Linked DNA regions of Homo sapiens: regions 2 and 3 are each linked to region 1. Evidence: fine-mapped expression QTL. A gene starts in region 1. Each other region holds a variant in brackets. All regions are shown on one strand. Distances are from middle to middle. Region 1 holds the start of DCAF4L1 (DDB1 and CUL4 associated factor 4 like 1). Region 2 overlaps PHOX2B-AS1 (PHOX2B antisense RNA 1). Region 3 overlaps LOC105374426 (a long non-coding RNA gene).

The links.
Region 2: its variant is fine-mapped to the expression of DCAF4L1 in monocytes after triphosphate RNA (Kim-Hellmuth 2017, PIP 0.95).
Region 3: its variant is fine-mapped to the expression of DCAF4L1 in whole blood (TOPMed, PIP above 0.99).

Annotation. Positions count from the first base shown.
Region 1 is chr4:41,977,419-41,985,164 of GRCh38, reverse strand. DCAF4L1 (DDB1 and CUL4 associated factor 4 like 1) reads right to left here and starts at 3,409. Exons shown (of 1, transcript NM_001029955.4): 1 at 1-3,409. The coding sequence starts at 3,372. The coding sequence ends at 2,182. RefSeq lists enhancers at 2,147-2,919, 2,479-3,678.
Region 2 is chr4:41,795,444-41,803,189 of GRCh38, reverse strand. It overlaps PHOX2B-AS1 (PHOX2B antisense RNA 1), which reads right to left. Exons shown (of 4, transcript NR_187403.1): 4 at 6,753-7,460. Among named protein-coding and RNA genes, the nearest start is that of PHOX2B, 51 kb to the right of the region's middle. RefSeq lists a silencer at 6,364-6,658. The variant C/T (reference allele first, on the strand shown) is at 4,448.
Region 3 is chr4:41,920,926-41,928,671 of GRCh38, reverse strand. The region is part of intron 2 of LOC105374426 (a long non-coding RNA gene); the gene reads left to right. Among named protein-coding and RNA genes, the nearest start is that of TMEM33, 11 kb to the left of the region's middle. The variant C/T (reference allele first, on the strand shown) is at 3,987.

The DNA of each region.
Region 1 (7,746 bases):
ATTTTTTGTCAATTGCCAAATAAATGACATATCAGTATCAGACATATATATATATACATATATATGTCTGCAGCTAGTTCTTACTGAATGATTGCAATGTCTTTTCTTCATTAATTGTTTTGTTTTATTTTGAATGCTTACAATGTAAAAGGGACAAGATACATATCCTTTAACCCTGTATCTACTTTATCATTTAGTTTTATTATCTAAGACATTTTACACTGAAGAAACAACAGCAAGTAAAGCTTACACAATTTCTCATGTCACATATCAAGTTAGTATAAAAAACTGACTGAAAGGATTCCAAAAATCTGTGCCTAACCATACTCCCATATCTTCTCTATTGATCTACTCATCTTCTATCAATATGTAATTACATTAACCTCATCTATGTCATATAAAGCACATCTATCCCATCTATTTTAATTCTATGTATTGAAGTCACCAAATTTGTATTACCAGCCATGACATGACCCCTGATCTGCAGAATACTTTGTATCTCCAATTGGAGGTTTAGTAGATGTCTAAAACTCAGCATCATTCCCTTCACCTAAAGTTTTTTCTCCTCATCCTCCCCAGGTTAGTAAACGACACCATCATCTACCAGTTCTAAAGTTAACAAAAAAGCTGCCATCCTCAGAGCTTGCAGTGAGCCGAGATCGCGCCACTGCACTCCAGCCTGGGCGACAGAAGGAGACTCCGTCTCAAAAAAAAAAAAAAAAAAGCTGCCATCCTTTTTTCTTTCACTTTCTAGTTTACTCTCATCAGCAAGCCTTATCAATAATACTACCTTCGAATGATCTTCCAATGCAATCATTTCTGATCATTTCTACTTCTCACACATGCAGGTCCAAGGCATCATTGTCCCTTGCCTAACTACAATAGTGTCCTAATTGCTTATTTTTATTTTTTGAGGAATAACATATATACAGTAAACTATAAAAACGTGAAGCATATAGATATATGAATTACGTATGTATCAAGTGTCAAGATAAAGAAAACTCAGCATTCCTAAAGCTTCCCCATGTCACTTCTCAAACATCCTAAAAAGAAAAAGAAAAAAAAATCCTTTCTTTCTACAGAGGTACGTACTACTCTACCTTTAATCACCATAGACAAGTTTTTACTGCTTTTGAACTTTAGAATTGAATCATACAGTTTGTACTCATTTCTACCTAATTTCAGTCAACATGTTGAGATTGGTCCATACTGTTTCACATAGCAAGTGTGCCTTATTTTCTATTATTATGCAGTATCCGATTGTATGATTATATCACGAATTTTAGCATTTTCGAAATTCAGATCATTTCCAGGCTTTGGCTATTAAGAAGTAGCAACTAACCTTATTACACGTTTTTTTTCTTCCTTGCTTAGTAGAAAAACAGGCTCTTTAACATTTTTAATAAATCTCTCACAAACTGCTGCTCCTAGATTACAAAAAGTCAAAGCCAATTCCTTGAATCTGAACTTCAAGTCACCATAATAGAAACCGGAGCTGCTGTACCTTACATTCTGAAAGGTACCTCAACAAAAGCACATCAAGGACTGTTTAAAACTTCTAGTATTTAAAAAGATCCATCTTTCCTTCCAATGCCTATGGATGATAACAATAAAAGGAGAACCTTAAGAGATCTGCTATTGAGTTTGAGAAGGCCAAATTTAATGATTCCAAACTCCAGCCTTAAATATTTCTGTAGAGACTCTGAGAAATTACCTCTCCCTTGTCTCCACTCCCACTGGCTTCCTCAAGCGCAGATGCCTGGGACCCTGTATGATTAGTCAAACAGTCTTACCAGTACCATCATTATGCTTCTCTAAAGGGCTACTAGTGAAAGAAGCTGCTTTAATTTATTTTAGTTTTTGCCAATCTTCAGTCCTTAGAAAAGTCTTAATTATTTAAAAAAAAAAAGGGTTGGGGAGGTGGTTAACTGTTCTAAGGCATTCAACAAGAGGAAACAGGTACCTTTTATGAAAAGGACTTTCAAGTTAAGTCCACAGTTTAACTGAAATAACTTTACAAGAACGTCTCCACATAAAACTCTTAACACCTTACCCCTGGCAGCCGGATGGATGCGATCTATATACAACACGTCTCTTAAAATGCTCTCACAGAAACGGTAATAAGATACTCTTAACTTCCTTAAGTCAAATCCACATTCGGCCGCGCTGCCACCTGCAGAATTAGCTGAAGGGGAAACAATAAAGGTCCTGCCGGACAGCCATGAGCAGCCCTGGTGCTGCTCCCCGGATGCCCCCGAGCCGAGAAGCGAAGGCCACGCTGGGAATGTCGTCCTCGGAGGCAGAGTACGGGGAAGGGATGGTTCTGAGCAGGTGGGCATCATGGAGGCTCCAGATTCTCGTGTAGCAGTCCTGGCCCACTGCCACCACGATTCCCTCTTCCTCGTGCACATGCAGGGGCAGATAGGCGGACTCATTCACGTGACCTTCGTACTGCCTTACACATTTAGTGGCCCTCAGATCCCACAGCTTGATCTTTCCAGTCATGTCTGATGCCATCAGGCATTGCTCTTCTTGGAGGATTTGCACAGAGGTCACTGCTGAGTCATGGAACAGGCGAGTGGCCCTCCACCCCTTGCCTCGATTTCTACAACGCAGATCAATGGCAAAGATCTCCCCGGAGCGACAGCCATTAAACAGCAAAGGAGCCGTACTAGCAAACTGCTGGGCCAAGACATCACTGCTGGTATCAAATGACTGCTGGTGTCCCGTCGCCACGCTGGTCAACAGGACCTGCTGAGACAAGCCTGCACTAAAGCAGTGATATGCCCGGGTGTTGAGGGACCACGCACAGGACCAGGCCTCTGGGATCTGGAAACTGCAGAGCATGCCAGGCTGGTTAACTCTTGTGTGAACACTTAAGAACCGCGACGCTGGGAGCAGCACTGCACAGCTTGGAGCATCTGTGATTCCCTCGAAGCACAGCAGAACGTGAGAGTCCAACTGGTTCAGCGAGGCCCAGCACAGGGACTTCACCTTCCGGTTGGGGACGTAGAGGTTTCTGAGCACGTACACGTGGAACGAAGGGATCTTCAGAGTTCGCAGGCTGATGATGCCGTACTTGGAGCCTTCGACTTCGACCTGGTTCACTACGAAGAGCTGGTCGCTGTTGGTACTCGCCAGAATGAAGTTAAATCGGTCGCTCGCCAAAGAGGAGGGATCCAAGCTCCGAATTTGGACCTTTTTCCGCTCCATGCAGCTCACACGCAGCTCGTTGGCTAAACGGGAGTAACTGGTGACGTTGAGGAAACCTAGCTGGCTTTTTCGGAGCATGGAAGATGCATTAAATCCCATTCTGGCTACCTTTTTCAGCTTGGCCTCTTCCTCGAGGAGTCGCAGCCTTTCAGCCTCCATTTCCTCCTGCGGAATGTTCCTCGTGACAGGAAATTCTGCAGGATGTTCTTCTCCGTGACAGGATGTTCTTTTCCGTGACAGGAAGTTCCGTCCGGGTGCAAGCGGAAGTGTTGCTACTTTTTATCCTCTCTATTCTAGGAGGAAGTCCATTGTTACAGATGTGTATTACAAATCTCTTTTCCTACTCTGTGGGTTGTCGTATTCTCTCAGTGGTGTCTTGATGAAAGGAAGTTCTTGATGTTAAATTTTTTCCTTTCTCTTTTTGAGACAGGGTCTTGCTCTTTCACCCAGGCTGGAGTCCAGTGGCACGACCACGGCTCACTGCAGCCTGGAACTCCTGGGCTCAAGTGATTCTCCTACCTCTGCCCTACTTAGCTGGGACTATGGGCTCACAACACCATGCCAGGCTACTTTTTTTGTAAAGATGGGGTCTCCCTGCTTTGCCGATGCTAGTCTGGAACTCTTGAGCTCAAGCAGCCTGTCCGCCTCAGCCTCCCAAAGTGCTGGGATTACAAGCATGAGCCCACGCGCCCTGCCTGTATTTCTTATTTTTTTATTTTTTATTTTAAGACGGAGTCTCGCTCTGTCGGCCAGGCTGGAGTACAGTGGCGCGATCTCGGTTCACTGCAAGCTCTGCCTCCCACGTTCACGCCATTCTCCTGCCTCAGCCTCCCAAGTGGCTGGGACTACAGGCGCCCGCCACCACGCCTGGCTAATTTTTTTTGTATTTTTAGTAGAGACAGGGTTTCACCGTGTTAGCCAGATGGTCTCGATCTGCTGACCTCATGATCGGCCCGCCTCAGCCTCCTAAAGTTCCGGGATTACAAGCGTGAGCCACTGCGCCCGGCCGCCTGTATTTTTAAAATACAGTTAGAGACCAGCCTGGGCGGCATGGTGAAACTTTGTCTCTAAAAAAATACAAAGATTAGGCCGGGCGCAGTGGCTCACGCCTGTAATCCCAGCACTTTGGGAGGCGCAGGCAGGCGGATCACGAGGTCAAGAGATTGAGACCATCCCGGCTAACACGGTGAAACCCCGTCTCTACCAACAATTAAAAAAATTAGCCGGGCATCGTGGCGGGCGCCTGTAGACCCAGCTACTCTGGAGGCTGAGGCAAGAGAATGGCGTGAACCCGGGAGGCGGAGCTTGCAGTGAGCCGAGATCGCGCCACTGCATTCTAGCCTGGGCAACAGAGCAAGACTCTGTCTCAAAAAATAAATAAATAAATAAAATACAAAAATTAGCGGGGTATGGTGCACACCTGTAGACCCAGCTACTCAGGAGACTGGGAGGGAAAATCACTTGAGCCTAGGAGTCTTGGAGGGAAAATCACCTGAGCCCTGAAAGTTGAGGCTGCAGTGATCACCCCACTGCACTCCAGCCCAGCTGGGAGACAGAATAAGACCCTGTCTCAAAAAGAAAGAAAAATAAGTAAATAAATTATGAATTTATCCAAATTGTCCATTTGTTTCATTAATGGTTAGTGTCTTTCATGTTCTGTTCAGGACATTAGTACCTATTACATGATACTAGTAAAGTTTTGGGGTGTCTTCAAGAGGAGGCTGATATCTCCAGTCCCCATCTGGATGTTTCCTTTGCCACAAAGCTTGCTGACTCCCCTTACGCTATGAATTTCCAGGAATTTTGGAGGACTGGGGAGAGTTGGTAGGGACTACAGAGAAATCCGGTGATATCTGGACTATGGATCCTGTCGGAATCTACAGGCCCCAGAGCTGGGATCACAGAGAGCACAGGAGATTGAGGCCCACACACTTGCCATGGAACATAACATGGGACAAGGGATTTCTATGTATCAGAAGAATGTGTTTCACCACTGCCAAATGGAAGTCAGCTGACAGATGCAGAAGTCTTGCAAAGGGCTATCAAAGCATAGAGGACTGCTTGATACTGAGTTATCAGTGGGGCTGTTAGGAACCCCATATATTCTAACAATGACCTACAGAAAGCAGATAGCAACATGGCGGCAGTCAGACATTTAAGGCATTGCCTGTTTTCCTTCTTAAACCTCCTGACCCCACCATCGGAAGAGCAGGCACATGGAAAAAAAGGGGTGTGTATAAAGAAAGTTGGAACTACGGGTCTAGTCTGCTCTGGAAGGCATGGAGGAAGTTTTTGAAATAAATATGAGACTAATATTTTAAATCAGTAGGACCTAATCTTAATACCTAGAATGAAAGTTTTAATAACTAAGGAGGCTGATACTTTGAAGCAATGAAATCTGACAAAATACCAAGTGTAGAAATGATGAGACTTTCAAGCTTATGCCTCTTGAGGTGAGATTCTCAATCAAACTGATTACACATCTTTGTCTACCCTAGTATACTGTGGACATCTTTAGACAGGGATTGTTTCTTATCCATCTTTCTATCCTTACTGTCTAGTGTATAATATAGTACATGGGACATAGGATATAGATAAGTGAATGAAGGAATGAAAATTATAAGAACTACATGTTTAATTCTCCTTTATTTCATAGGCTCCTTCACTGAGAGGAATAAGGGATTAAGGTTATTTCTGCAAAATCTATCCAACTTCTACTCTACAGGGAGAGCTTTCAATCTATTTCCACTTCTTTTTTTCAATTTTTAATTCCCGTGGATATATAGTAGGTGTATATATTTATGGGGTACACGAGATGTTTTGATACAGGCATGTAATGTGAAATAAGCACATCAGGGTAAATGGGGTATCCATTCCCTTAACCATTTATCCTTTGAGTTACAAACAATCCAATTACACTCTTTAAGTTATTTTAAAACATACAATTAAGTTACTATTGACCATGATCACCCCGTTGTGCTATCAAATAGTAGGTCCTATTCGTTTTTTGTGTTTTGTGTTTTTTTTTGTGTGTGTGTGTGTCTTGCTCTGTTGCTCAGGCTGGAGTGCAGTCGTGCGATCTCGGCTCATTGTAACCTCTGCTTCCTGGGTTCAAGTGATTCTCCTGCCTCAGCCTCCCGAGTAGCTGGGACTACAGGCTCCCGCTACCATGCCAGGCTAATTTTTGTATTTTTAATAGAGATGGGGTTTCACCATATTGGACACACTGGTCTCGAACTCCTGACCTTGTGATCCGCCTGCCTCGGCCTCCCAAAGTGCTGGGATTACAGGCATGAGCCACCACGCCTGGCCAGTCCTATTCATTATTTAACTTTTTTTTTTTTTTAACTCATTTACCATCCCCACCTCCCCCTTCTTTTCTGATTAACTAACTTTCCTTCCCTCTCAATAAACATATAAATCAACCTTCTAGAAAAAATAAGTCTCCTTAAATGCTACATGACTTTTTATCTACTGTCTTAAAAAATTATTTCAGCCTTTAGGATTCTTTCCTTCTCTTTTAGGAATTTACATACTCCATTCCCACCATGCCACTCCATTTCCTTCATCCACCATCTCTTCCCATTTCTCCATAGAAGAAATTGGAAACGTTCCCCATAACTCTCACAACTCTGCCCCTCAGGTCTTACCCCAGCTCAAGGTCCCATACTCACCCTGCCCAACCACATCGTGTGACCTTTGCAGCAGTGGTTCTCATCCTGGGACAACTGTTGGCAATATCTGGAGACATTTTTAGCTGTCACAACTGGATACTACTGGCATCGAGTGGGTTGAGGCTGGAGATGCTGCTAAACATCCTACAACACATAGGGCAGCCTCTTACGACAGAGAATTATACCCCAAAAAACTCCTCTCCTCAGAGTTAAAATTCAGAACTGTGTATAAAAGGCAAGGCTTACCAGCTTCCACCATGTGTGTGTGTGTTTTAAATTCCTAAATCTTCACACATGCCACATGCCTCTTAATACTGACCGTTTTTCCCATCCCCCACCTCTGTTCATGTCTGAAGCCACTTCCTCACTTTAGCATCACTGTTGTGAGTCACAGAGAGAGGAACAAGAGGCAACATTCCTCATCTTTTTACTCCAATATCTATACAAGACGGATAGGGAGGTAAAAAGATAAACAGGGATAGATTCCTACTCTATTCTATTCTGAGCCTCTTGCAAAGTCATATTCCAAATGCTTCAGATAGGCTTCACTGCAGCTTATTTATTCTTACCAATTTCACTATACTTTTTCCCAATATCTCCAACATCCCTTTTCTTGTCTTTGAGAAGCTTCCTGGAAATAACTTTTGTCTGACATGAATCTAAACGTATTATATTTCTGTGACATTTTACACTAATTATTGCTCTTTCTAAAAATACCCAGGCCTTTACTTTTTAGCCAATTTTTTTGTTGTTGTTGTTTCTAAAACAGAAGGTGAACTGGGTCAATTCAGGTATTAATTTTAGCTATGCCATATCAACTTCTGGACACAAGCAGCTAAAGAGAAACTGGAATGGGAAG
Region 2 (7,746 bases), 180 kb after region 1:
CATTCAGAGCTGAATTGCTTTTTTTTTTTCCTTTCTTTCTTTGAGACAGAGTCTCACTCTGTCACCCAGGCTGGAGTGCAGTGGCATGATCTTGGCTCAGCACAACCTCTGCCTCCCGGGTTCAAGCAATTCTCCTACCTCAGCCTCCTGAGTAGCTGGGATCACAGGTACCCACCCCGATGCCTGGCTAATTTTTGTATTTTTAGTAGAGACTGGGTTTCACCATGTTGGCCAGGCTGTTCTCGAACTCCTGACCTCAAGTGATCTGCCCACTTTTGCCTCCCAAAGTGCTAGGATTACAGGTGTGAGCCACCACACCTAGGCTCTGAGTTGCTTTTTATTAGCGTCAGTGCCTTGCAGATTATTCTTTCAACGCTTCCTTTTGCAGTCTCAGCATTTTCATCAACTGACTTGTGAAGCTGTGCAGTGAGGACCAGGGCTTAAGCCCTGGAGGGCAGCTGGAGGGCAAATCACACTGCAGAGGCTGGTTCTATTGCCTGCACTCAAGATGGCAAGACTGTGAGAGACATTAAACTTGCCCAACAGACAGAATAAAACCTACATGGACTCACTCTGCTTCACTCCACTAGGCAGATGTCCTTGTTACCATGTGGTTCATTGCCAGTCTTGCTGAATTCAACCTGGGCACCCCCAACCTTAGTTGGCACATGTTTTTTTGCTTTCTGCATTATCAGTGCATCACTTGATCCAACTTGCCCTGGCAGAAGATGCAGCGATGGCAGATAGGTGCTTGTTGCCCATGAAAATATGGTTACGTAGTCCAAATTAGAGGAACAGCTTTTAGTTCTTATTGGTTATCTCATTGAGATAAACTTCTGAGGACCAGAGTGGACTCTCATTTTGGAAGCATGATTCTTCAGGTGTTTTCTACCTCTGGCTACCAACATTCAGGAAATATTTACTGAGTCCCTCTTTTGCCCCAGACACTGTTTTGAACACTGGGTTTAGAGTAGTGAACAAAACAGATACGCTTACCCATATGGAGCTTGTGTGCTAGAAGGGAGAGATAGACACAAAAGAATAGAACTAGGTAAAATATATAGGATGACAGAAAGGATTAGTGCTATGGAGGAAAAGAAAGTAGGGGAGGGAGTTAGGTAGTACAAGTGTATTAGTCCGTTTTTCACGCTGCTGATAAAGACATATCCAAGACTGGGTAATTTATAAGAAAAAAAGATTTAATGGACTCACAGTTTCAAGTGGCTGGGGAGTTCTCACAATCACAGCGGCAGGTAAAAGGCACATCTCACATGGTGGCAGACAAGCGAAGTGAATGAGAGATAAGCTATAGGGGTTTCCCCTTATAAAACCATCAGATTGGCCAGGTGCAGTGGCTCATGCCTGTAATCCCAGCACTTTGGAAGGTCAAGGAGGTTGGATCACCTGAGGTCAGGAGTTCGAGACCAGCCTGACCAAAATGGTGAAACCCTGTCTCTACTAGAAATACAAAAATCAGCCAGACATGGTGGCACATGCCTGTAATCCCAGCTACTTGGGAGGCTGAGGTAGGTGAATCGCTTGAACCCAGGAGGCGGAGGTTGCAGTGAGCTGAGATGGCACCACTGCACTCCAGCCTGCATGACAGAGCAAGACTTTGTCTCAAAAAAAAAAAAAAAAAAACAGATCTCATGAGACATATTCACTATCATGAGAACAGTATGGGGAAACCGCTCCCATGATTCAATTATCTCCCACTGGGTCCCTCCCACAACACGAGGGAATTATGGGAGCTGCAATTCAAGATGAGATTTGGGTGGGGACACAGTCAAACCATATCAACAAGTAAGGTGGGAGAGTTTCAATTTTAAATATGGAGTGGTCAGGGATGACTTCACTGAGATGGCGGCATTTGAGTGAAAACCTAAAGGACATGAGATAATGAGCCATTTGGACAGCTGGGAGAATCTGCATTCCAGGCAGAGAACAGCAAATGCAAAAGTCCTGAGGAAGTGGCAGAACGCAGGAGCAATGAGGAGGCTGGAGAGGCTGGAGTGGAAAAGGATAGGAGGTAAGGTCCGAGAGTTTGCAGAGGCACTAGAGCATGCAGGGTTCTGAGGCCCATGGTAAGAATTTGGCTTTTATTAATACTTGCATCAGATGAGAAGCCACTGAGCAGAGAGTTGACATAAATGATCACTCTGGGTTCTGTATTGGGAAAAATAAATTCTATGGGAGTGTGGTAGATTTAAAAAATATGTCCACAAGTGCCTCGATGCTCCTCTCTTTAAAGGATGGAGCCTAACCTAATCTCTTTCCCTTGAGAATGGGCTGGACTTAGCGGCTTTCGTCTCACAAATAGAAGTGGGGGTAGCAATGGTGCAGGAGCTTGGAGATTGAATCAAGGGGCAATACAGCCTCCTCCTGGCTCTCTCCCTCTTAGCTCTCTTGCTCTAAGGAAAGCCAGCTGCCATGTCATGAGGACATTCAAGCAGCCAAGGGAGAGCCCACCTGCTTAGGAACTGGAGCCTCCTGCCAATAGCCAGAGAGAAACTGAGGTCTTCATTGATGGTGAACAGCCACGTCAATGAACCATTTTGGAAGTTGATCTTTCAGTCAAGCTTTCAGATGACATCTCTTTCTTTTCCTCATTTTAAAAATTGTGGGCAAGTACACATAACATAAAATGTACCGTCTTGACCATTTTAAAGTATATGGTTTAGTGGTATTGGATACATTCGTCGTGTAGTGCGGCCATCATCACCATTCATCACCAGGACTCCTCTCTTCTAGTAATACTGAAACTCTATGCCCATTGAACAATAACTCCCCATTATCTCTTTCCCTCTGTCCCTGGCAACCAGCATTCTACTTTCTGTCTCTATGGTTTTGACTACTCTAGGTACCTCATGTAAGTGGAATCGCCTAGTATTTGTCTGCTTGTAACTAGTTTATTTCACATAGCATATTGTCCTTCAGAAAACATCTTGACTTCAACCTCATAAGAGACCTTGAGCCAGGATCACCCAGCTAAGCCACTTGATTTTCTGTTGTTTTGAGACAGGGTCAGGCCCAGGCTGGAGTACAATGGTGCCATCTTGGCTCATTGCAACCTCCATCTCCCAAGTTCAAGCGATCCTTCCACCTAAGCCTCCCGAGTAGCTGGGACTACAGGCACACACCACCACACCCAGCTAATTTTTTGTTTTGTAGAGATAGGGTTTTGCCATGTTGCCCAGGCTGGTCTTAAACTCCTGATCTCAAACTCTAATCCTCCCACTTGGCCTCCCAACATGTTGGGATTACAAGACGAGCTACCACGTCTGGCTCACATACATATTTTGAATTCCTGTGTCCACCTTTGAAAGTTTTCTATTTCCTTCATCATTCCCACCAGAATCCATTGTCACATTGCAATCTGTTCCTTAGGGCTAAGAGAACTGAGAATGCTTATTATTTTTTTTTTGAATGGGGTTCAAAGAAGAGTGACAAAGTGAGAGAGTGCGTGGCTGATGGAATCTTAATTTTTGTGCTGCTGCTTTTGCTGCTTAGGAATTTTGCTGATCATCAGTGGCTTCCTCGCTGAGCTGCAGGTAACTGAGGTCGATGGATATTTGACTTTCTGTGCATGAGCCAAAATCTCGCCTGATATTTGCTTCAGTATTTTGCTTTCATTCTTTTGCAGAAACATTCATGCTTTGCCGAGACAGAAATAAAGAGATTAATTGCTAGAAACTCAGACATGTGACTATACAAACAGCATATTTCAGAGAAATTTTTAAAAGTTCTATTGTGGGGGGAAAAAATAAGAATTCTACTCCTCCCATGAGAGCTGATGACAAGGGAGCTGGCTTGGAGAAGTCCTAGAGGGAGAGAAACCCTGGGGCTGGAATGGAAGGGTGCCAGGAATTTATGTCTCCAGTAACTCTGAGGAACGCAGTTTTGCATTAAAATTTTAAGTGGGGCTGAAATTCAGACAGAAAGGATTTTGCCTTCTCCAAGAAAACTGTGATAAATAACTGCAGCATTGACTTAGGGAAGACACAAGTAGTTGAACTAGAAAGTGGAACTGGAGTTGACTCTAAAAACCTAATTTATGGATTACCAGGTTCCCAGTCAAAATGACTAATAATTCTGGGGCTGTAATTACCCACCTGTAGGCTTTACTTTTTTCCCTCAAATTTCTACTTTTTTTTTGTATTTTACAAATTTTTAATAATGAACATGCACTCCTTTTATAATATAAAAAAATCCAATTAACTTAATTAGAAAAAAATTGCCCACCAGGTGATGGGAGGTTTCTTGTTAATTCATCACCCGGCATCATACTCTGCCCACCATGGAACAGTTATTTTTGTGGCTAACTCTGGGTGAGGTGTTGCAGGGGTGTGGTAGGGGAGGGTGGTGATAGGAAGGGTGAGGGGAAAGACTGTTTCTTAGAGCACTGTCTAGAAGAGAGACCCGAGCAACTCCCTCTGAGGGGGAGCCA[C/T]GTACATCGCCTGGCTTTCAGTGATTTCAAGGGGGAAGGGGAGCGGAAGAAGCAGAGGTTCTACTGTGGCGGGGGAGGCTATGTATCTGGTTTTGTCACATGATATCCACTGTCATGGAAGGCCTTGCATTTGGAAATCTGAGTTTGGTCCAAATGGGAGCCTGGGAGAGAAGTCTCAAACCGTGCCACCTGTCTTCATGCTGTGTAGTTCCTGCAAGGGGGGCAGGGATGGAGCAGCCAGCCCAGTCTGCCTCCCACCTGGCCCATCTTTTGTCTTCTACTGATGGGCTTGCTGGGGTAAGCAGTCAGCTTTGGTATTGATTGAAAATTTACAAGACTTTTTTTTGTTTGTTTTCTTTTCCTTTTTTGAAGACAGGATCTTGCACTATTGCCCAGGCTGGAGTGCAGTGACACAATCATACTCATTGTAGTCTCGACCTCTCTGGACTCAAGTGTCCACTTGCCTCAGCCTCCCCAGTAACTGGGACTACAGGTATGCACCACCATGCCCAGCTTCAAGACCTTTCTCTGGGTTAGACCCATTCTTGGTGTTTGGTGTCCTGAGTAGAAACTTGGGAAGGTCTGGAAGGCTTTACTCAATGTAAATGTCATGATTAATTTTACTTTCATCTAAGGGAGTCAACATCATATAATGAGTGGCTGCTGTGTGCCCATTAAAGAAATAAAGGGCCGGGCACCGTGTCTCACACCTGTAATCCCAGCACTTTGGGAGGTCGAGGCAGGCGGATTGCCTGACCTCAGGAGTTTGCAACCAGTCTGGGCAGCACAGTGAAACCCCATCTCTACTAAAATACAAAAAATTAGCCGGGTGTGGCGGCATGTGCCTGTAGTCCCAGCTACTCAGGAGGCTGAGGCAGGAGAATTGCTTGAACCCGGGAGGCGGAGGTTGCAGTGAGCAGAGATTGCCACTGCACTCCAGCCTGGGTGACAGTGAGACTCCATCTCAAAAAATAAATAAATAAAATAAAATAAATAAAGAATTCAATCCTTGTCAGCTCAGTCTCCAAATGGAAGTCTTCTCTGTTTCTCAGAAGAGCAACGCAGGGATTCCAACATCACACACCACAAATGGGGGAGGAGGAATCTAGTCACAGTTTACAGTGAGATTCAGAGGATTGCAAATGAGAATAGAGGAGACAGTGGAAAATTAAAATGCAGCCTCACAAGGGAAAAAGTGGTATCTGGAATTTGAAAGAATGTTCATGCTCTGAAAGCAGCACTCATGTCTAGGTAGAGTTAATGTATGGCATCTTCGTCATAATCGTTCCATTATTGATTAACTTCACATTGTGCTTCAGTTAGTTAATTGTAGCCTTTTCCTGTTTCTGGCTCTGGTGTCTAAAAGCAAAATAGACCCTTTGTTATGCTCTCAGAAGAACTATTTACACATTTTGATTTGGCAAAGAACAGTTCATTTTTTTTCTGGGACTTTCTGGCTTTTTTATTCCACATGGAATATGCAAGCAAAACTGGCTGAACTTTGAAATAGCAGCTAAATCCTAACAGCACTACAGCATTACTTGCCTTGCTCTTCTCAAATGGCTATATTTATTATAAATTAAGTCAATATTCTGCTGTAGAAAAGTCACTGTATAACGGGTACATCTGCCTACTATGCCTAGTCCCAGAACCATGAGCCTGTCTGGCATAGATCATTCAGTTTTGCAGGCATCCCTCTATGGAATGTGGTTCTCTCCCCTACAGAAGGGTCCCCACTGTACTGGGGGAGGGGAGGTTGTAAGCAAAGTCATCCGTCCCTTGGAAGACGTCCTGACCTCCCCAGGACTGAACTTTCAACCTCTTGAGCTGACAGTTAGTAGTGGATGCACAAATTTTGCTTGCGACTAATTGCAGCTTGTAAATGGAGCATTGTGGCTCCGGAAAAGAGCCAGCAGTCTCTCTTCCCAGGGTCACCCAAGTGGAATCTGGACACAAGAAAGCCTGTCCCCTAATGGGCGTCCTCCCTGAGCCCTTCCCAACCTCTCAGGCCCTGGGTTTGTCTCCATCAAGTAGAGAGCTAGAGGGCACAGCAGGAGACTCCTCTGCAAATCTTCTTCGAATGCCGGGCTATTCATAGTAACTTGCAGCTCCCTCAGGAATTCCCACAGACTTCCCAGAGCTGACTATTGTCTCCCCACCCTGCAGCAGTGGCCTTTCACAGACCCAGGGATATACACGCCATCTCAAAGCACAAAATGCTTTGCAAGCCGTCCGTGAGATGTTCACCAAAGAAACTACTGGAAGTTGAGAGGACGAAAAACAGAGGCAAGTTGGGAAGGTAGAATAAGATTTTCCAGCAGATTAACTATTTATTTTTAGTTTCACAAAGCAGACACAGATTGTAATTGACAAATAAGCTATAGAGTGCCATGGAACATGAAGTCACATTTCTTTTTCTTAAAGGCAGGACTAGGTATGCTCTGAGCATCTCTGATAGAACAGCTGGCTGTACATGTGAACCACAAACATTCAGTTGTAAAACAAAAGGGGTAGCCAAGGGTGACTTTTTTGTTTTCTCTGATAGTTTCATTGGACTGAGGTGGTAGCTAATATCATCCTGTATCCTCAGACCATGAAAAGAACATAAGGAACTCTGTGAAAGTGTGGAGTGAGCTTTCCAGGCAAGCATCATATTGTTCTCAGTTAATCAAATTTGTCAAATTGTTCCCAGTGCCTTAGAGCTAAAGGGTAATACTTAGGACCACAGTAAACAAATCCCCAGCCATCTGCTCTGACAGCTGTTGGACCTTGAGCACGAACTTGTATTCCCAGAGTATTCTGAGAGCCCTTAGGCACAGGGATGTACTAGAATGGTTCGACCATCAAGTGGCCAAAGAAAGGTTAAAACTACTAACAGCCCTGGGATATGTATTCCCAGCTAGAGGTGTCCCAGGAATAAGCAACAGGAGCAAAATTCTCCCTTTGTTCATCAGTCTCTGAGCATTCCAGTTTCTGTGTCATCTGGATATTTTCTCAATACCTTCAGCTTGGCCTTAAAAATCAATGCAGTTAGTGAATTGCTTAGTTGAAACTGAACACATCTATTGATGCCGAAACAAGAGCTGTGCACTTCCAACCAATTTAAAGAAATCTGCTTGGATGATCTGTTCGATTCTGTGCCTCTCGAATGTGAGGGCTCAGAGAATTCCCTTGCAGTTTCAGTAAATTATTTCTATGAAAGTTGTTTGCCTTCACAAGTTAGTTTTTGTGTGCCAATTTCATTAGGCCAATTGGGTGTCATAAATGATGTTAGAATAGGGTGATCAACCAACCCAGTT
Region 3 (7,746 bases), 56 kb after region 1:
CATGCGTATATTTAAGAGCCCAAATGACATCAAAGAAAACTGTGTTCTTATCTCTGCTTCTCTCTGAGTTGACTTCATTGTCAAGTTGATTCTTCTTCAACTTTAGTCCATATACCACCAGATTAGTAAGACTAGCCTGTAGAAAGTGCCTCTTACTTGATACTTTCAATTTAATGAGCCAGGCTTGATTCTCACTGGATCAAATTTGGTCCCATAAAAATTTCTACACCAATCATTTAGTTTAAGAGACAGATTGACCATGCTTGGGTCATTCACTCACTCTTGTTTGAATGGAGAGTTCTGAAGGGAATGTATGCAAGGTCATTACAGCAGATAGCTAGCATAGTATGAGGAGGACAGGAAAGGGCACCCCACCCCCATCCCCACACACACCAGGAGTGTTGGGTAAGCATCAGGGGATGGTTGGGCTGTTGTTTACTGTCTCTCTAGAGTAATAATTAGTTACAGTAAGCACCAGGGAAGGGCAGTCTCCTAGTAGATAGAAAATACCTGAAACTGGTGATCAGCAGCTTCCTGATAAGATCTCAGGAGTTGGGCGAGTAGGCTCAAGCAAGACAGCCCACCCCAGGGGAAGAATCAGGGGAGGAGTAATGCAACATCCCAGAAGTGTGCCAACATGCTAAGCCCCAGGTGAAAAGGTCAAACCATGCACTTGATCTCTCAAGTTGCCCACTTGGCCCTCCTCCAAGTATACTTTACTTCCTTTCATTCCTTTCTGCTATTTGCCTCTCGGTTGAATTCTTTCTTCTGAGGTGGCAAGAATTGAGGTTGCTGCAAACCTATACGGATAGAGATTCGCAGCTGGCAACTGGATGAACCTCATTTGACACTCTGTGTGTTGCTATAATAAGAACAATGTATGGACGCCAGGTACAGCAAAAAAAAAAAAAAAAAAAAAAAAAATTATTCTGCTACACTCCCTCCATAGGGTCAGGGTGAATTCCTAAGTGTTATCTAACTTATTTTAATTGAAGGTAAGAAAATCCAAATGTAACACAAACCCCGAAGCTGAAGCAATTGACTACCAAGAGGCCATTATTCCATTTGGCTAGAAATTGGCTGATGAAACAAGAATTGATTCCAGAGTTATTGATGACTTGGCTCTCCCCCCTGTTTTCAAGGGGGATTCTACTGAACCATCAAGTCATCAATTTGCTCATTTCTGCTTCCATCAGTGATTAATAATTCTGTAGTTGGATAGGGTATCTTTGCAATTGCTAAGTGCTAAGTCATTCATTTCATTAGTAATACATTCCTACTTTTATTTGCTGCCTGAAAAGTAAGCTCCATAAGCTCTGCAGTTATAGCTTGAGCATGAGGTCTTAACTAAGAAATGAAAATTATTGTTACCTTTAAAAATTGGTAATGTAAGAAAAACTATAAGACTTTAGAATAGGTGCACGTTCAGTGGAATGCTGAAGACTGGGTATTATCTGATGCTGTATCAGTGTATCTTTGTCTCTGACTAGGCTATGTTTTAAACTCTTTAAATTGTAAATAAATGATAGCAATGCAACTACTTCTTATCTATTACCTCTCTATTGATGATGTGACAAATTATGACAAGTTTCATGACTTAAAATAACACAAGTTTATTATCTTATAGTTCTGAAGGTCAGAAGTCCCACACAGGTCTCCCTGGGATAAAATCAAGGTCTGCAGGGCTCCACTCCTTTCTAGAGGCTCCAGTGGAGAATTAATTTTCTTCCCTTTTCCAACTTTAGAGCTCACCTTTGATTACTGGACTCCTTTCTCCGTTTTCAAAGCCAGCAATGTTTCATCTTTCTGAACATTTCTCTATAGGCACAACCCCCTCTGACTCTCTTCTGCCATCCTCTTCCCCATTTTTTTTTTTTTTAAGACAGAGTCTCACTCTGTCTCCCAGGCTGGAGTGCAGTGGCATGATCTCCACTCACTGCAACCTCCACATCCTAGGTTCAAGTGATTCTCCTGCCTCAGCTTCCTGAGTAGCTGGGAATACAGGCGTGTGCCACCATGCCTAACTAATTTTTTTTTTTTTTTTTTTTTGCATTTTTAGTAGAGATGGGGTTTCACCATGTTGGCCATGCTGGTCTCAAACTCCTGACCTTAGGTGATCCGCTCGCCTCAGCCTCCCATAGCGCTGGGTGAGCCACCATGCCTGGCCCAGCCTTTTCCACTTTTAAAGACTTGTGATTATTTTGGACCCACTTGGCTAGCCCAGGGTACTCTCCCTATAAGGTCAGATGATTAGTAATCTTAATTCCATCTGTAACCTTAATTCCCCTTTGTCATGTAATTTAAGAAATTCACAGGTTCTGAGGATTAGGATGTGGACTTCTTGGGATGAGAGGCAGGGAAGGGTGGTATTATTCTGCCTACCACATCTATAGACATGCAAATAAATTCTGCCAAATGGAGACTGAATTGACTTTTCTGCCTATCTACTCCTATATAAAAATCCAGTTTTGTTTCTATTTGTAAGTTCATTTCAATATTCCTTTATTCTATATAAATTTGTAGTCTTTGAATGGGGTGTGGTGGCTCACTACTGTAATCCCTGCACTTTGAGAGGCTGAGGCAGGAGGATCATTTGAGGCCAGTAGTTTAAGACCGGTCTGAGCAACCTAATGAGACTCCTGTCTCTTAAAAAAAAAAAAAAAATTTTTTTTTAACTAGCCAAGCATGGTGGTGCAAGCCTGTAGTCCTAACTAGGTTTGCTTGAACTCAGGAGTTCAAGGCTGTAGTGAGCTATGATTGTGCCACCGCATTCCAGCCTGGGCAAGAGAGCAAGACTCTCTCTCTTAAAAAAAAAAAAAGGAAAAAACTTGTAATCTTGACTTCTCCATTGAATCAGTGTTAACAGCCTTCCCAGTCCCCTCATTAATTAATGAGCTACACAAAATCTTTGACATGTATTTATTCTATAGATAAAATAAAATAATTACTTTATAAAGATTACATAATTATATTGTCAAATTTTACCTTTTTTGAAAATGTATCAGAGACTTAGCTACTAGACATAGAAAAAATATATGTTTACTAGAAATATATTCTAGAGCTTCAGAAAGTGAGTCTATCCCCCACTCTCTTCCATCTTCTTATAAATTTCAACAGGCACAGGAGATGGACCTCACTGGGACTGTAATGGCTAGTGGTTGAAAGTTGGAGATCAGATTGCTTCTCCCTGACACTTGAAACTCAACTTTGCACCATAATCAATTCAAGGGAATTGTTTAAAATCACCTTTTCATTTATCTAACTGGGTCCTGGAGAAATTTTACAATCTACTTTTTTCCCTGGTTTTCAAAGTTTCGTTTATTTGAGTAGTTTCTAGCCATTATCATGTTTGCTCCTGAGAGGCATGCTGAGAGAGAGGGAAAAAATTCTTGGGCTAATTACAGAGTCTAATACACTGAGGTGGAGGTGGACTCCTGGCAGGCTCAAGGTATAGCTAATAAAGATGACAGTTTTGAAGCTGCAGGAAGCAGTGGCCCAGGCAACAGCAGGCCCCAAAGCATGCCCCATCCAGCCATGCACAGAGAAGTGTGTCTCAGCATGGAGTGGGGGAAGGGGAGACACAGACAGATGCCTCCACAACAGTGCCTCCCACCCCACCTGGCCTGTACCCTCTTTCTTTTTTTTTTTTTTTTTTTGAGACAGTCTTGTTCTGTCACCCAGGCTGGAGTGCAGTGGCACGATCTCGGCTCATTGAAACCCCTGCCTCCAGGGTTCAAGAGATTCTCCTGCCTCAGCCTCCTGAGTAGCTGGGCTTACAGGTGTCCACCACCATGCCTGACTAATTTTTGTATTTTTTTTTAGTAGAGATGGGATTTCACCATCTTGGCCAGGCTGGTCTCAAACTCCTGACCTCGTGACCCACCTGCCTCGGCCTCCCAAAGTGCTGGGATTACAGGCATGAGCCACCTTGCCCGACCGCCTGTACGCTTGTAGCTATGCCTTTTCTAGTCCTCTGGCGAGCCTGC[C/T]GTCCTAACAATAGCCGAGATGGTGGCTCTCCTGTGCATGCATGTACATGTGTGTGTGTAGACATGCACACCTTCCTTGCCCACAGCTCCAGGAAAAGCAGCCCCAGCAGAGCCACAGTGGCTTTCTCTGTGGGTGGACAGTGCACCTGTACATACAAACCCCACTTAGGACTCAGATCCAAGCAGAAATACCTCCTGCAGCCTTGCCCATCACCAACACAGTAGGAGAAGGTCCTCCATGGGGGAGGGGGGTGCCCACTAGAGGCCTCAATTAGCTGGACATGTGGCAATGGCCCATGGCAGACTCACCAGTTGCCTTTCACTGCTTTGATGTCACTCAGGAGGTTCCAGGCCAGAAAGATGCCAAAGATCTGAAGGAAGGTGATACTCACAAAGACCTAGGTAATGACGATCAGGTTGTCCAGCAGCCGTTTCTCAAACTGACCCATGCAGCCTTTGGTGTGGATGGAGCCCTGCTGCTCCAGCTCCAGTTTAAGCCAGACATCACAGTGAAGTGGCGTCATTGTCTGGGGTAGCATCCGAGGTTCGTTGCCTCATGCCAAGGAAATCAAGGACATAGATACACAGGAGTCAGTTTAAGAGTGGAGGTTTAATAGGTGAAAGAAGGAGAAAAGAAAATAGCTTTCTTTTCTGCAGAGAGAGAGGGGCACCCAAGTGGGTCTTCTGGTCCCATGATGAAGTGCACAGGGGTTTTAAAGACTGGCTTGGGGAGGAGCTATCTGATCTACACAGGGCCCAAAGAATGGTTGGACCAGGTGAGACATTTACATAGTTCAAGAGGAAGCTGGCCATCCCACCCTAGTCTTCTATTATGCAAGTGGCTTCTCTACTTTACCAGCTCCGCATTGTCTGCTCCTTACTGTTCATGTGGTTGGCAAGGAAAAGGGAAGATGGAGCCGCCATGTTGAACATGCCTAGCCCCCTGGTAGGCTTCTCCTATTGGAACAGCTGCTAACATTCACCCATGCAAGCTTCCAGCTTGCTTATTTATGTCTGCAGCTCAATTTTACAGGCAGCTTTGTGTTAGAAACACATGTTGTAAAGGGAGGGGATGTTCATGGAAACTCAGAAAAAGGAAGTCATGTAGAGAGTGCTGCAGTGGCAGCAGTTGTAACCTCTGGTCGGGAAGGCAGCCATTCCTGCAGCATCCCTACAAGGAGGAAGCTGGGGTAAAAAACTCAACCTCAAAACTGGCTGCACCTATAGTCCCAGCTACTCGCAAGGCTGAACAAGGAGGACCACTTGAGCCCAGGAGTTTGAGGCTATAGTACACTATGATTGCCTTTGTGAAAAGCTACTGCACTCCAGCCTGAGGAATACAGGGAGACTTGTCTCTAAAAACAACAACAACAAAAACCCAACCTCTTTATTCCTACCTCCCTCTGATCTCCTACCAGGGATCCCCAATGGCCAAATCCAAATTGAAGCCAGAGAGCAAGTAAATTCATTGAAGCAGCCCAAGCAGGTCAAATTCCCAGGGTCAAGAACAGGATGGAGAAGTGTGGAGAATGAATCTGGAGAGGCAAACAGAAGATATTCAGCACAAACCCTATGAGATGGGTAGTATTATTGTGCCCATTTTATATATGTGGAAATTGAGATGCAGAGGGGTTAAATAATGCACCCATAGATAACAGGGGGATAAAAGTGGCATTGAAATCCAGAGTCTGTGTTTAATCACTGTCTATACTGCTACCACTTTTTTCTCCATGATATCTCCTGCATAGTGCCATATGGAATAGAGGTCCTCAACAAATACATTTTAAAAGAAAACAAAAGGAAAGAAGAGATTAAGTAAACTATTTATGAAGATTTTAAGTTAGTTCTCTAGAACAGTGGTCGCCAACTTTTTGGTATCAGGGATTGGTTTCATAGAAGACAATTTTTCCACAGACGGGAGTAGGGAATGGTTTTGGGATGAAACTGTTCCACCTGAGATTATCAGGCATTAGAGTCTCATAAAGAGCATGCAACCTAGATCCCTTGAATGTGCAGTCCGTAATACGGTTCGAGCTCCTATGGGAATCTATTGCCACTGCTGATCTGATAGGAGGTGGAGCTCAGGTGGTAATGCTTGCTCCCCCAGCACTCACCTCCTGCTATGAGGCCCAGTTCCTAACAGGTTAGTACTGGTCTGTGGGCTGGAGGGTGGGGACCCCTGCTATATTAGTCCATTCTCACACTGCTATAAAGAACTTCCCAAGACTGGGTAATTTATAAAGGAGAGACATTTTATTGACCCACAGTTCCATAGGGCTGGGGAGGCCTCAGGAAACTTGCAATCATGGCAGAAGGGGGAGCAAGCACGTCCTTCTTCACATGATGGCAAGAAGGAGAAATGCCAAGCAAAATGGGGGAAAGCATGTTATAAAACCATCGGATCTAATGAGAACTCAATACCATAAGAACAGCAGCATGGGGCTAACTGCCCCCATGATTCAATTACCACCCACCAGGTCACTCCCATGACATATAAGGATTATGGGAACTACAATTCAAGATGAGATTTGGATGGGAACACAGCCAAACCATATCATTCCAACTCTGGCCTCTCCTAAATCTCATGTTCTCACATTTTAAAACACAATCATGCCTTCCCAACAGTCCCCCAAAGTCTTAACTCATTCCAGCATTAACCCAAAAGTCCAAGTCCAAAGTCTCATCTGCGACAAGGCAAGTCCCTTCCACCTATGACCCTGTAAAATCAAAAGCAAGTTAGTTACTTCCTAGATACAATGGAGCTATAGGCATTGGGTAAATATGCTTGTTCCAAATGGGAGTGCCGAGTCCTACCCACAGACCCTGACCCAGTGACTGATGAACAAATGCACTCAGACACAGATATCCAATGAAGGAGCGGGCTAGGGGACGGGGCCACTCACAGACCCTGAGGAGGGTGCTGTGAAGAGTCAGCAGCCATGGCCTCAATTAGCCAGAGAAGTTCGCATTTATTTAGTACAGATTAAATGACAAAGGTCTTGAGTAAACACCACTAGAGGGTAATTAACATTGCCGACCTCCCAAGTAGAGAGCAGTTATGCACCACAGATGATCAAAGGATAGTCTTAGGACCACATGAGTAAACAAGCTATTTAGATAAACTCCTCTACATTCCTATGTAAGCTTTTAAGAGAATTCAGCTGCCTTCAGTCAAATCTTTTACTGAAGCTATGCAAAACTCCCAGCATTCCAAGAAGGTTTGTGTCTATTTCCTATAACTTTATCTTTATAATTTCTCCCACCACCCTGACTGATTCCATACAGAAATTGGCCAAAATGAGGGTGCTATAGGCCCCAAGCAAATCCAAAAATCCAGTGGGACAGTCAAATCTTAAAGCTCTGAAATGATCTCCTTTGACTTCATGTCTCACATCCAGGTTATGCTGATGCAAGAGGTGGGCACCCACAGTTTGGGCAGCTCCATCCCTGTGGATCTGCAGGGTACAGACCCCTCCCAGCTTCCATCATAGTCTGGCATTGAGTGTCTGCAGCTTTTCCAGGTGGAAGTTGCAAGCTGCTGGTGAATCTACCATGCCGGGATCTGGAGGATAGTGGGCCTCTTCTCACAGCTCCACTAGGCAGTGCCCCAGTGGAGACTCTGTGTGGGGACTCTAACCCCACATTTCCCTTCCACACTGCCCTAGCAGAGGTTCTCCATGAGGGCTCCACCCCTGTAGCAAACGTCAGCCTGGACATCCAGGCATTTCCATGCATCCTCTGAAATGTAGGCAGAGGTTCC